Homo sapiens: one gene and its partners. The protein of the gene in region 3 purifies or fractionates together with the protein of the main gene of each other region. This does not show direct contact. Each region holds a gene or a part of one and is shown on either strand. Other genes may lie near its edges.

What was found. The genes of interacting proteins can lie anywhere in the genome.
Region 1: the proteins of STK38 (region 3) and ESRP1 fractionate together in Homo sapiens (co-fractionation; one large-scale study listed by BioGRID). This does not show direct contact.
Region 2: the proteins of STK38 (region 3) and FKBP11 purify together in Homo sapiens (affinity purification with mass spectrometry, with the first as the bait; one large-scale study listed by BioGRID). This does not show direct contact.
Region 4: the proteins of STK38 (region 3) and NEK10 purify together in Homo sapiens (co-immunoprecipitation; one large-scale study listed by IntAct). This does not show direct contact.

The regions. Positions count from the first base shown.
Region 1 is NC_000008.11:94,665,174-94,668,673, reverse strand, and holds part of ESRP1 (epithelial splicing regulatory protein 1), read right to left. Parts: coding exon 3,478-3,500; intron 726-3,477; coding exon 424-725; intron 1-423. UniProt on the Homo sapiens protein: mRNA splicing factor that regulates the formation of epithelial cell-specific isoforms. Specifically regulates the expression of FGFR2-IIIb, an epithelial cell-specific isoform of FGFR2.
Region 2 is NC_000012.12:48,922,693-48,926,790, forward strand, and holds the start of FKBP11 (peptidyl-prolyl cis-trans isomerase FKBP11 isoform 1 precursor), read right to left. Parts: upstream 2,801-4,098; 5' UTR 2,737-2,800; coding exon 2,608-2,736; intron 2,431-2,607; coding exon of another isoform or gene 2,420-2,430; coding exon 2,354-2,419; coding exon of another isoform or gene 2,082-2,353; intron 1,957-2,081; coding exon 1,869-1,956; intron 1,565-1,868; coding exon 1,531-1,564; intron 1,161-1,530; coding exon 1,090-1,160; intron 913-1,089; coding exon of another isoform or gene 860-912; exon of another isoform or gene 434-859; intron 1-433. UniProt on the Homo sapiens protein: PPIases accelerate the folding of proteins during protein synthesis.
Region 3 is NC_000006.12:36,537,480-36,540,979, forward strand, and holds part of STK38 (serine/threonine-protein kinase 38), read right to left. Parts: intron 3,311-3,500; exon of another isoform or gene 3,122-3,310; intron 2,729-3,121; 5' UTR 2,724-2,728; coding exon 2,593-2,723; intron 1-2,592. UniProt on the Homo sapiens protein: Serine/threonine-protein kinase that acts as a negative regulator of MAP3K1/2 signaling. Converts MAP3K2 from its phosphorylated form to its non-phosphorylated form and inhibits autophosphorylation of MAP3K2.
Region 4 is NC_000003.12:27,306,884-27,310,383, forward strand, and holds part of NEK10 (serine/threonine-protein kinase Nek10), read right to left. Parts: intron 2,123-3,500; coding exon 2,043-2,122; intron 1,063-2,042; coding exon 976-1,062; intron 1-975. UniProt on the Homo sapiens protein: Plays a role in the cellular response to UV irradiation. Mediates G2/M cell cycle arrest, MEK autoactivation and ERK1/2-signaling pathway activation in response to UV irradiation.

The DNA of each region.
Region 1 (3,500 bases), on a different chromosome or scaffold from region 3:
CCAATGCTACAGAAATCAAATTGATGACAGGTTTTTAAGCATTTTACATAGAAATTTCTTCTGGTAGAAAAAAATCAATCTAAGTGTACACTAGAGGAATTTCTAGATAAAGTATGCACTTCCATGAGATATTTAAAGATGAAACTTTTCAGACATAGGTAAGCTTTCATAGTTTTAAAACAGAATACAAAAATCCAGCTATAGCAGTATCCCATTTCTGTAAAAATACGTAGTATGTGTTGTGTGTGTGTACAGGATAACAGCGGCTATCTCTTGGTTATAGAATCAAGACTATTTTCATGCAGTTACACTTTTAGTATTTTGCCAGTTTTATTTTAACATAATGAGCAATGTAGGACTATTTTCAGAGATAAAGAACAGAAATTAATGCAAAGGTACAACATACTTGTTTTTAAAACCAACCTGCTGAACTTCAGCTGCTGTGCTCCTGAAGAGTTCAATGTATCTTTTACCCAACAAGTCTTTATGCTTCCTCAACGCATTCTGTGCATATTCCTCACAGGCAAAGAGGACAAAAGCGTCCCCTGTTGGCCTACCATCTGGGTAGGTGACAAAGAGGATGCCTTCCTTTCCCCCAGTAATAGGGCAATGCTGTCCAAAGAAGGCCACCACTTCTTCAGCTGTGGCCGTGAAAGGGAGCCCCCGCATGCGGACAATGACTTGATTTTCCTTGGAGAGAAACTGGGCTACCTCATTGGAAGTACCTAGGGAAAACAAATATTAGGAAGCAGGGAGAGAAATAGTTAAGACATCAACTTTACCGATTTTAAAGTGATAAAAGTCCTGCCAATGTCTTGAGTTCATAATGAAGACCCATACTCCTACTGAACGCAAAATAACATCCTAGAAATCAGAATTTTCTAAATTTGAAACTCCTCCCCTTTTTCATAAAACATCCTTCTTAATTTAGGAAGCTGGCAAGACAATTAAATCACGGGCCAATCACTAGTAAGTCATTGTGGTAGTTAAAGGCACAGGTCCTGGAGCCAGAATGCCTGGGTCCAATCTTGGCTTTACTGCTTACTAGGGCATAATCTTAGTCAAGTTCAACTCCGTGCCTTACTTTTCTTGTCTGTAAGATTGCCTATGTCATAAATTATGAAAATTAAGTAGGGTAATAGATATAAAGCACTTTGGGTTAAAAAAATCTTTTCCTGATTACTCTTTTGCTCCCAAGAAAACCATCTGCAAGTAACTCAATTACCTTTTTTTTTTTTAATTAAGAAAGGTTCAAACATTCTTAGTAAAAAGAATAGTATAATGAATATATGGGGTACCTACTTTCAATATTGATCAACATTCTGCCCAACATAAAACATTTTGTACAGTGTTGTCATATAGCAAATACTTAAATGCATATCTTTGAAACTCATACACTAGTAACATTTTCCCTAATAGCACGTTCTTCTTTTTGCTTCTTTTTTGTTTTTTTTTTGAGACACAGTTTCACTCTGTCTCCTAGGCTGGAGTGCAGTGGCACGGTCTCGGCTCACTGCAAACACCGCCGCAGAGATTCAAGTTGATTCTCCTGCCTCGGCCTCCCAGAGTAGCTGGGATTACACACACACACACACACACACACACCCCTCTCCTGGCTAATTTGTGTATTATTAGTAGAGATGGGGTTTCACCATATTGGCCAGGCTGGCCTCGAACTCTTGACCACAAGTGATCCGCCTGCCTTGGCCTTCCAAAGTGCTGGCATTAAAGGCATGAGCCACCAAGCCCAGCCCCTAATAGCAAATTCTTATCGCAGTGCCCATATACAATGAAATCCCAGAAATGATATAAACAATTGACTTTGCCATCTCCAAGTTGCAATGCATCTATCATGAAATGTCAGGATTTAGGTAAAACCACAGCAACCCCAAATATATTTGACCCCTAACAATATCAAACATTGCTTGGGAACTCTGGAAATGCTCCTAAATTTGAAGTCCTGAATTTTGAAGCCTTAGAGTTTATCTAAAGATGAACTGGAGCAAAAATATACCAGCAGATTGTGTTAATAGGATGCTGTTCCGGTAAGTTCTATAGCTGCAAAATTTTCACCCAGGCTCTGTAATGTAGGAATACAAATGTTCTTTTACACAGTGAAAGTCATCTTCATATAATTTGGCAATAGGTGTCAAATGGCTGTTGAAAAGGTCCAAAATTCTTTGATTCAGCTATCCTGCTTTTAGAGATTTATCCCAATGAGTGGCGCATACAGAGATTTTAAAATATTGACAACATATTAAAGTCAAAAGTTGGAAATGAGTTCTAAATGCTCAACAGGGATATTTTATTTATTACAGACAGAATCTCACTATGTTGCTCAGGCCATTCTCAAAATACACCAAGGCTCAAGCAATCCTCCCTGTCTCAGCCTCCCAAGTAGCTGGAATTACAGGCACAAGCCATGTGCCCAGCTCCAACAGAGATGTTTCAAAATATTATGGTACATATAATACTATGTAGCAATTAACATTTAAGAAAATTGAGTAATGTAGGATGATGTTAATATACATTAAAAGGAAATTATAAAACAATATGAATGAGCAACAGAAACTTACAAAGTAGATATATATATAGAAAAAAATCAGACAAAAAGCAGTCAACGTTTTATGCATGTTACTTCCTTTAAAGTTATTAATCACTAAATAACTGGATAAAAACCACATCTGTTCCACCCTGTTTTTAACCATATTACTGTAAATACACATCCAAAAATACTACGAGACCCAAAACTACCATGTTTCTGGTGACTCATGTGTTAAGTTTAGAGAAAAATTAGAAGCACATGTGCAACAATCCCAGGTATTGCAGCGTGGCCGTTTGAAAGCAGTTTTCTGACTCTTTTCAAGAATATCATTTCCTGGCCGGGCACAGGGGCTCAGGCCTGTAATCCCAGCACTTTGGGAGGCTGAGGCAGGAGGATCAATTTGAAGCCAGGGGTTCCAGACCAGCTTGGCCAACATGGTGAAACCCCATCTCTATTAAAAATACAAAAAGTTAGCCAGGCATGGTGGCACACACCTGTAAACCCAGCCACTACGGAGGCGGAGGCACAAGAATTGCTTGAGCCTGGGAGGCAGAGGTCGCAACGAGCTGAGATTGTGCCACCGCACTCCAGTTTGGGTGACAGAGCGAAACTCTGTCTCCAAAAAAACAAAACAAAAAAACCTAGCCTTTCCATATGCATACAACTTCATATCACCTTTTCACCTTTGTATAGTACTATTTTTAATGGCTATTTAACTATAGTAAGTTGGCTCAAGCCTTAGGACAAGTGTTATACATTAAGCTCACTGTTATTATCGGAAGCTTCTACCTCTGGGGAAGAAAATCTATTCCCATGTTCCATTAGAAAATAAAAACCATTCATGACCCTATTCACCTACTCTTGCTAAATTTAAGTATGCAAAATTTTTAGATTCTTATTAACTAAAGCCACATTATGTAAAAGGCACTTACCACCAGCAATTTTAAGGAAATCT
Region 2 (4,098 bases), on a different chromosome or scaffold from region 3:
GCTTAAGAAGTAAAGGGGCAGGTGGAACAGAAATGAGTGGGCAGAAGAGGTACAAATAAGCAGCACTGGGAATGGGGAGGTAATAGGGCTTTGGGTAAAAGTTTCTCCTTGGTCCCCCTACCCTCCTTCCAGGCCTTCCTCTAAGCTGGAACTAGGATAAGAATTAACGAGCCCAGCCAGGCGCGGTGGCTCATGCCTGTAATCCCCGCACTTTGGGAAGCCAAGGCAGGCGGATCACCTGAGGTTGGGAGTTTGAGACCAGCCTGGCCAACATGGAGAAGCCCCATCTCTACTAAAAGTATAAAATTAGCCGGTCGTGGTGGCGCATGCCTGTAATCCCAGCTACTCGGGAGGCTGAGACAGGAGAATTGCTTGAACCCGGGTGGCGGAGGTTGTGGTGAGTGAAGATTGCACTATTGCACTCCAGCCTGGGCAACAAGAGTGAAACTCCATCTCAAAAAAAAAAAAAGAATTACGAGCCCAATACTCTGTGGAGTACAACACATTTTAGCTAATAGAACATTTGTTAGAACTGAAAGCAAAAGATATGCATCTTGGGAAATCTGTCCATCTCAACCCTTCAAAAATAGACATCGGCAGTGACCAATGATGGCTTTTAAAGTTATGGGGCAGACTTGGCTTTAACAGTTGCTTTTTGTTTTGTTTTGAATCACTTGACTGTGATTATTTTTACTGTCTCTTCCCTGATGGAGGCTGAAAGGAAGGGGTGGGGGGTGGCTGTACAGCTGACACAGCGTAGAGTTGTAGAAAAGGGCAGGAAAGAAGTCCAGTGTTCTGGGAAAGGTGGTGGCACAGGCAGCAGACCCATGTGGCCCAAGCAGGTCTCTTCCCTAACAAGTTACTGGCTGCTGGAGGTCATGCCAGGTGGCCTCATCAGGTTGTCTTTAGTCCCTGTTGGTGATATGAGGAGGAAAAAGGTGGCCCTGTAGATGGAGGCCCCAGCCACTCCTATCTGTCTAAACAAACTTGGTCTGGATCTTCTCAAGCATCAAACAAAGTATATAGCTCCTTATAGCTCTTAGGGACTGGGTATTTTGATGGCCTGAGAGAGAGTCCTAGTCAGATTACCTGGGACAGATGGTGGAAATCCCCGTTTTCCATAGGCCAAGTGAGAAGGAATGATTGCCCTTCGCTTCTCTCTGAGGGAAGGAATGTCAGTCACAGCCAGAGGCAGGAGAGGTAGGCCAGCAGCCTCAGTCCAGCTGAAGCTCCTTCAGCAAAACCCCCTGAATCTTCACACCCAAAACACGAATTTTTCCACCTGAACACCAAACAGGCTGGCCAGCAAAGGTGTCCATCTCCCCATGTGCCTCAACTCCCCCGACAAAAGCAACAGCGCAAGAGGCACAGAGGCTTTGAATGCCCTCAGAGGTCCCACTGACCTGGACCTGTCCAGTGGGAAGCAGGGTCCTTTATTCCACATTCTCCTGCTTAAGGAGTGAGGATGGCCGAGAAAGCCTCTACCCATGCAAAGGGGGTACCCAGGCCCACCCCTGCCGAGATACTCACCCCACACACATGTCGAGAAGACTCTGCTCCAGACCTTGAAGAAGAAGACACAACTGAACTGGAAGCTATCCACCTTCCCCAAATCCCATGACATGAAGATCAAAGTCTTCCTCCTCCATCCTCAATTGACCTTTCCCTCACTTCTTAAATCTCTGGCTTCCAATAGGATATGGGACAAGTGGAGTACTAGAAGTGAGGTTTGAACCTCAGGAGGTAACTCGTAGAGCCCTAGGGTCTTACTCATTTCAGGGGGGATTTCCAGGGCAGCTTTGGAGCCGAAGAGGCTAAGAAAGGGCTTAGGTTGGGAAGAGGTGGAATGGGAGGCACAGGTCACATACCTGGAATCACCTGCTTTTGGCCAAGTTCTATAACCAGAGGGTCTCTGGTCAGGGAGGTGTCAATAATACGTCCATCTACCAAGCTTCCCTGGGGGGAGAGAGCATCAAGAGCATACATCTAGCACCCTCTCCCTCCCAGCAGGCGCGCAACACACACCTGGACCGCTGGGCGGCGGCAGCCCCCTTAGTGCGGCAGCCTAGCGTTCCCCTTACCGCTGTAAGGAACAGGAAGCCCCAGAAGGCTGGCGCTTCTCGGAGATCTCTCCACCCTGCACTTCTCCGTGCCAGGTAGGAACTGGCAGAAAAGCAAGGAGGGAAAAGAGGCACGGAAGAGCAACGTCTCTCCCCTCGCCACGTGCTCGACGACCCCAGAGCCCCGAGTTTCTTCTCCCGAACCGCTTGCCACGTGTCCAAGCCAAAGCTGACGTGTTTCAGCAGGGCGCCGCCCCCTCCCAGGCCCCGCCCCGGCCCCCCAGACCCCTCACCGTGTAGTGTATGTGAAGCGTGTCTCCAAAAGCAGCGGGCTCGGCACATGGTTCTGGGGGCTCCACCTACGATCGGACTACAGGGGTCACGGATGCTCTTCCAAAGATCCCGTTCTCGCCCCTAGACCCGGCACCACCCCCAACTCAGTTCCCGCACTTCCTCTCCTCCCGGCTCCCAGGTTCGCTGAGACCCCAGTATTACCACCCAACAAGGCTCGGCCCACGGGGGCTGAGGGTCGGGACTATCTCCTCACCAGGGTCTCCACTTGGAGGGTCCGGACGGGACTTTCGGTTTCGAGCCCAGCCTCAGCCCGGCACACCGCCGCACTGAGCAGCAGCAGCAGCAGCAGATGGAGCGGGAGGAGTGAGGGGCGCAGGGTCATGACTGGGCGCGGGGCAGGGAGCCGGGGCACCAGGACAGGCTGTTCGGGTGGCGGCAGCCAGGACAGCGTTCCCGCGGCGCCCAGGCCAGACTGGACGGGACGGGGCGGGTCGCGATGCTAGAGCTCCTCCTCCTGCAGCCCTTCCTCCACCTTGTCCCCACCTCCGAAAGGGAGGAGGCCGAGGGGCGCCCTCTGTACCCTCCAAGATCCGGAGGGCGCAGGTTCTGACGCATCCGTTAGACGTTCTGTCCTATAACGTGGGTCGGGCCAAACAATAGCACCCATTTACGATTACCTACTGTGTGTCAGGAGCTAGTCTCTAATCCTCAAAACCACCCTGAAAGGTCGGCATGATTGTTTCCATTTTACAGATAAGGCACAGGGTGCTCAGGATGTGCCCAAGGTCATCAGGCTAGGTGGTGACAGAGACAGGATTCAAACCCAGGACTGCCTGAGTCCAACGTGGTTGCTGTCTGTTCTTCCAAGTCGTCTCCTTGTGGCTATCCTGGCAGTGTCTGGCTGGCAGACCCCACCCAGGCAGTTCTCATTCCTCTCCGACCTCCAGCTACTTCAGCTTGAATTTCTGGAGGTTATAGATCCAAGTATCCGAAATAAGGCAGGGGGCTGTCCTATCCCTGTCCTTTGAAAAGCTAGCTGAAAAGAGCAAGGAGCTGTTATCCTGTAAGAACAGGGTAAATCCCTGATCTTTTCCTCTGGTGCTACTATTTCCTTTCTCCTTTCATCAACAAACTTCTCAAAGGGCAGCACACGTAATCCATTTATGTAAAGACTTCACTTTTTTTTTTTTTTTTTTTTTTGAGATGGAGTCTCGCTCTGTGGCCCAGGCTGGAGTGCAGTGGTGCCATCTCCACTCACTGCAACCTCCGCCTCCCAGGTTCAAGCGATTCTCCTGCCTCAGCCTCCCAAGTAGCTGGGATTACACCCGCCACCACGCCCGGCTAATTTTTGTATTTTTAGTAGATAAGGGGTTTCACCATGTTGGCCAGGCTGGTCTCAAACTCCTGATGTCAGGTGATCCGCCTGCCTCGGTCTCTCAAAGTGCTAGGATTACAGGCGTGAGCCACCAGATTTCTTTTTTTTTTTTTTTTTTTGAGGGGGAGGAGTTTTGCTCCTGTTGCCCAGGCTGGAGTGCAATGGCGCGATCTTGGCTCACCGCAACCTCTGCTCCCGAGTAGCTGGGACTACAGGCATGCGCCACCATGCCCAGCTGATTTTGAATTTTTAGTAAAGACAGGGTTTCTCCATGTCTGTCAGGCTGGTCTCGAATTCCCAACCTCAAGTGATCCACCCACCTCGGCCTTCCAAAGTGCTGGGATTACAGGTATGAGCCACCACGCCCAG
Region 3 (3,500 bases):
CTGAAAAGAACCCAGGTGTTTATCAATAGGAGAATGGACAAACAAAGATATAGTCAGAAGACAGAATAGTACCAACAATAAAAAGGAACAAATTATTGATGCATATAGCAACACAGAGGAACCTCAAAAATATGCTGGCCAGGTGTGGTGGCTCACACCTGTAATCCTAGCACTTTGGGAGGCTAAGGTGGGAGGATCACTTGAACCCCGGAGTTCGAGACCAGCCTGGACAACAAAGTGAGACCCTGTCTCTACAGAAAATTTTAAAAATTAGCCAAGCATGGTGGCATGCACCTGTAGTCCCAGCTACTTGGGAGGCTGAGGCAGGAGGATCGCTTGAGCCTGGGAGGTCAAGGATGCAGTAAGCTATGATAGTGCCACTGCACACCAGCCTGGGCAACAAAACAACACCCCGTCTCGACAAAAAAAAAAATATGCTAAATGAAAGATGCCTTGCTCAAATGAGTACATACTACATGTTTCCATTTATGTGTTCCACTTGTATGAAATAGGCAAAACTATGATAGAAACAAAATCACAACCAGGCACGGTGGCTCACGCCTGTAATCCCAGCACTTCAAGAGGCTGTGGCAGGTGGATCACGAGGTCAGGAGACTGAGACCATCCTGGCTAATACAGTGAAACCCCGTCTCTACTAAAAATACAAAAACAAAATTAGCCGGGCTTGGTGGCAAGCGCCTGTAGTCCCAGCTACTCGGGAGGCTAAGGTGGGAGAATGGCGTGAACCTGGGAGGCGGAGCTTACAGTGAGCCGAGATCACGCCACTGCACTCCAGCCTGGGCAACAGAGTGAGACTCCGTCTCAAAAAAAGAAAAAAAGAAAAAAAAAAAATCACAACAGTGGTTGTCTTTGTCTAAGGTTGAAGAACCAAGAGGCATGAAAACTTTTTCTGGGAGACGTAATGTTCTGTTTTGATAAAGGTTTAAGTTATACAAGTGTATGCAATTGTCAAAACTCATAAAATGGTACCCTTGAACTTGTGCATTCCATTGTATATAAATTTTACACCCTTCCCCAAAAAGTATAAATACTGAATTCTAGTTAATGTTATATAAGCAGAAATATTCAGAAGTATACTGATGTCTACAACATACCTTGAAGTGAGGCAAAAAATTAAGATGGATTGGCCGGGCACAGTGGCTCACGCCTATAACCCCAGCACTTTGGGAGGCCAAGAGGTCAAGAGATCAAGACCATCCTGGCCAACACAGTGAAACCCTGTCTCTACTAAAAATACAAAAATTAGCTGGGCGTGGTGGCGCATGCCTGTAATCCCAGCTACTCGGGAGGCTGAGGCAGGAGAATCACTTGAACCCAGGAGGCAGATGATGCAGTGAGCCAAGACCACGCCACTACACTCCAGCCTGGGTGACAGAACAAGACTCTGTCTCAAAAAAAAAAAAAAAAAAAAAGGAAATTAAGATGGATTAATGACAGATACAAGAATGGATAGATGGATATGCAGTTAAACAAATATAATAAATAACCATTATAGACTCTAGATGATATATATGTATATATTCACTGTTTATTACAAGTTTTCTGTACTTCTGAATACTTTCATAGTAAAATATTGGGAAAAATTTTTTTTTAATTATGAGTTACAGCCAAGCAGTGGCTCATGCCTGTAATCCCAGCACTATGGGAGGCCGAGGCAGGTGGAATGCCTGAGGTCAGGAGTTCAAGACCAGCCTGGCCAACATGGTGAAACCCCGTCTCTGCTAAAAATACAAAAATTAGCCAGGCGTGGTGGCTCACACCTGTAGTCCCAGCTACTGAGGAGGCTGAGGCACGAGAACCGCTTGAACCCAGGAGGCAGAGGCTGCAGTGAGCTGAGATCATGCCATTGCACTCCAGCCTGGGCAACAGAGTGAGATTCGATCTCAAAAAAAAAAAAAAACCAATAAATAAATTATGAGTTACTAAGTGGACAGTATACACCAGATCAGTAATAACAATAGCTGATACTACCACCATTAACTAAGTGACTACTATGTGTGAAACACTATGGTACATACTCACATATGTTATATCTAATCCCCAACACAATCCTGCAAGGCAAGTAGTATTATCCCCATTTTCCTGATGAGGGAACCAATTCACAGAAAGACTAAGGAACTTATTAGAGCTTCATACAGCTATTCAATGAAACTGGCAGGACTCTAAACCCAAGTCTGACTCCAAAAGGGCTGCTATTCCATTATACCACTCTGCCTTAACAATCAACTCCTTGGATTGGGCCTAATTTTTTTTTTTTTTTTTTTTTTAAGATACAGAGTCTCAGTGTTGCTCAGGCTGGCCTCAAATTCCTGGGCTAAAGCAATCCTCCCAACTCAACCTCCCAAGTATCATTTTTTTTCTTGGATTTCAATAGAAGTTTGTGTTATTGACTTGTAGGCATAAGTGGGTTAATGGCAGGGACTTTGAAAAGCCCTTTCACTGTCATTCCATTATGATAGTCTATAATAAGGCTGCTACTATTCTTGTCTCCTTTCAGCATTATAAGTGTTTTACAATACGAGAAAGGAATGCCACAACCATGACACAATTTTTTCAAACAAAATTCTTTACCTCATTTCTCGTTCTTCATGTTGAGCGATAAGGTTGCTATAAAAATTCTCCAGTGTCACTTTGGTCATTGTCACCCTTTCCTTTGTGTGGTTACTCATGGATGAGCAAGGTGTTGAGCCTGTCATTGCCATGGCTGCTAGAAACAAAGAAAAGAAGAGGTGTTAGATTTGGAGTTAGAATCCACCCAGTGTGCACTCTCCTACCCTATTGGTAGGAATGTAAATTGGTGCAAGTTTTCTGGAGGACAAACAGGTAATATGTAACAAAAGCCAGAGAAAGAGAATACTTAGTGAAAATAAATATAAATTACTGTCCTATGACCCAGAAATCCCACCCCTAGGTATAAAGACTAAAGAAACCGTCACACAGGCTTCTAAAGTGACATACACAGGATGTTCAGCACAGAGAGGATGTTCATCATGCCTTAATTTGTGTTATGGGAAGTTGGAGGCACTTAAGTAAGAAAATAAAGAGCTGTGGCTGCATAGGAAATACCATGCAACAACCAGAAAACCAGAAGCAACTTTACCTGTACCTGTAAGTCACACAAATATATCTTTTTTTTTCTTTTTGAGATGGAGTTTCGCTCTTGTTGCCCAGGCTGGAGTGCGACAGGATGATCTTGGCTCACCGCAACCTCCACCTTCCAGGTTCAATCGATTCTCCCACCTCAGTTTCCCGAGTAGCTGGGATTACAGGCATGCGCCACCACACCTGGCTAATTTTGTATTTTTAGTAGAGACGGGGCCACCTCGGCCTCCCAAAGTGCTGGGATTACAACTGTGAGCCACCGCGCCTGGCCCACACAAATATATCTTTATTTATTTATTTATTTGTTTGTTTTTGAGAAGGAGTCTCGCTCTGTCGCCCAGGCTGGAGTGCAGTGGCGCGATCTCCGCTCATTGCAA
Region 4 (3,500 bases), on a different chromosome or scaffold from region 3:
CCAATTTCATGCCTCCATGTCCAAGCACATACTGTTTTTATGTTGTCTCTCTCTCTCTGCCTAGATATCTTCTCTTTCCTCCAGGAAACTTTGCATGACTCCACATTCTAATTGGGAAGTCTCTGCTCCATGTTCCCAGAGTACCCTGTGCATCTGTCTACCGTATCAGTTATAGCACTGTTTGACCCTCTTCTACACTACATATTTATAACTTATTCATCTTTGGTTTTCAACACCTGGTACCAAGCTTGGAACCTTGTTTGTTCAGATAACCAAGTCTATAAGTATTATCTATATTTAATGCTCTTTTATGAGAGTTTTGAAGAAGAATCCAAAAGGATTTACTATGAGTTAAGTGTCAGGGCTCCATTGCTGGAGATTTCTTTTTATCTATTTTGCCTCTTTAGAAAATTACTCAACTAAATATCAAATGATATAGATTGCAACTCTATTTAAGTACAATCTAATAACTATCTGGATAGTTATTAGAACAATATGCAGTTCAAGTAAAAATGAATCCATTTTACTCTAGATTTTGAGTTATCATAGCAGGTGATCACAAAACAAGTCAGTTGCTATCTTATTTTACTTGCCTTCATGCAAATGGATTTTAGCAACCTAATCACTTATTGTAATATACAATTTGAAATTACTAAAACTAGAGCCACCTCAGAGTTTCTTTCCCTAAAAAGGCAGGATATAAATAAATGCAATAAACAAAACATTAAAAATGATATCACAAAAATTTATTTCATCAGCTTCTATGCCCAGATCTAGAAGTAATGCAGGACTAAACATAAATGGATATACTTCTTTGCTCTATTTTCTTTATATAAACTTAAACAGAAAATAAATGCCAAGCTGACTCATCATATTCAGTTACAATGTAAATAACATGACGTAATAAAAATAATAACAAGTGTATCTGTCAAATAAAGGCACTGCATTGTCTTTTTCTACTGTTAGCAATCCTACCTTTTAGAAAGCAAGTCATATTCATGTAAAATCATCAACAGATTTTCTACAATGTTGAGTTCACTTATCTTCTCCCTACATTCTTGACTATAAATTGAAAAATATTAGCAATTACTAAAAGCATATTTTGCTAGATCCATGTATTAGTCCTTTTTCAAACTGGTATAAAGAACTGCCTGAGACTGGGTGATTTATAAAGGAAAGAGGTTTACTTGACTCACAGTTCAGCATGGCTAGGGAGGCCTCAGGAAACTTACAGTCATGGTGGAAGATAAAGGAGAAGCAAGGCACCTTCTTCACAAGGCAGCAGGAAGGATAAGTGCCGAGCCAAGGGGGAAGAGCCCCTTATAAAACCATCAGATCTCATGAGAACTCACTCACTATCATGAGAACAGCATGGAGGAAATGGCCCCATGATTCAATGACCTCCACCTGGTCTCTCCCTTGACATGAGGGAATTATGGGGATTACAGGGATTACAATTCAAGATGAGATTTGGTTGGGGACACAAAGCCTAACCATATAAATTTATTTATTTAATATCCTAGCTCCAATATTATCTTGGGAGAAGAGATCAAAAAACAAAAGGAATCATATGTTATTCACAGAAAAGCAATGGTCCACTTATTGTCATAAAAACATTTAAAATAATCATGACATTTATAAGAGGAAAGATCTTCTTGAAAATTTTTCAAAGCCCACAGATGTTTGAAAACGTTCTGTATGTTAAAATTCACAGGTAAGAATGAATTAAGATGGTCAGAAAGATTCAACTGCCAAAGAAATATTATGGTAATTTTGAAATTAGAAGTAACTGAGGGTTAGATGAAAAGACTAAATATTTCCAGTCAGGAAATAAAAAGAAAATTTTAAACTGCAATTTGCCTTTCCAGTTTAAATTTTTAAATAATGCCTTCTATCCAGGATTCTCTTCAACATGTTATTTCACACTTATTTATCAAGAAATTGTATTAAGTAGTTGACAAAGTAACTGATTATTTTGCATCCTTACCACCTAAATTGCTATAGTAGCAGAACTGGAAAGTATATTAGAATACACTACTTACCTTTCTGCTAAACTAGCCAGAGCCAGAAGGGAACCCAATAGAACATTAGTATCTCGGGCACCAAGTAAATTTACTAATGTCTGAAAAATGAAGTAAAATAAAGTTTAATTATATAAGTACTACAAGCTTCTTTTTTCAACATTAACATTAATTTATTTTCCATTACCAGCTGCTTGAATGACAAAATGCTTCCCTCTTAAGATCATATAGGCTTAACTGTTTTTTTTTTTTGCTTAGTAGTTTATAATGTATGTGCATATACAATTAAGCACAAACTATATATAATGTTAAAGCTGCTCTCTCTTATGTTTTTTTCTTAATGTTATCTACTGAAATTTTTTCATGGCATTAAATATATCTTTATAAACACTTTTTGTCAATATAATCAAGTTGTTTATTTTATTATGGCTTTACCCATAGAATAGTGAAAAAAATTATGCCCTATCAAGCCTTATGCAGCTTCCTTTTTATTTTTTGCAGTCAATATAAAAGTTTATCTTAAAAAGAGTTTTATTAAACATTCAAAATATCCAGTTCTTTACAGATGGCAGGAGTCCATCTCTCCTTACTTTGGAACTCTTGATAGTAACCTCTTGTAGCCATTCCTTGCCCAGGACAGGAAGAAAAGGCATCAAGCTACATGACCAGCCTGGTTCTCATACATCCTTCTATTTCCATGTGCCCAAGTATTCTCTCCCCCTTCTGATCCCACGCTGGGAAGAACCAGGAAGATTAATGACATAAATTACAATAGTGGTAGTGATCAGCCATTGAGAACTCACTTTGAGCCAGGCATTGTGCTAGGCACTTTCCAAATTATGAAACGATTTTTCAACAAAATATTGAAACTTTCATTCTTTTGCCAAACTAAACAAGATATGAATACTATCGAGCATTCCATTTGCCTCCCAGATTTCTAATTGATGTTGAAAGTGCATCACTGATGCTCCCAAGCATCATCCTAACTAACATGACTTAGCTGGAAGTCTGTAGCTTGTCAGTGGCTTTCCCTGAATTCTCGTTAAGGCAAATTTTCTTATTTGGAAAATTCTCTACATTTTCAGAATGCGGAGTGCCCCTGAAAAGTGCCTCCCAAAATGTCTCAGGTCAGAGCTGCAACCTGCGCAACAACGGCTAAGGTAATTTTTATGTTTCCAGTATATGGATTTTTTGCCTTTATGATTTCATTTTATCTTAATGAAGTTATCATTATCTTTATTTGTCTGATCCTTTCCTCTTTTTCTTCTCTCTTTCTTCTCTGTCTTCTAATGTTTCCCAAACTTCAATCCATTACATATCATTTTCACATTTTTTGCCATATTCAACTAACATCTTTAATGTTAACTCAAAAAAATTTTTTCCAATTGTAAGCAATAATACCTGTGAAATAGCTGGCTACTGAAACAAAAAATGTTGACCTGTGTATCACCTAGAATCATCCTCTAGACCATGAGCAGC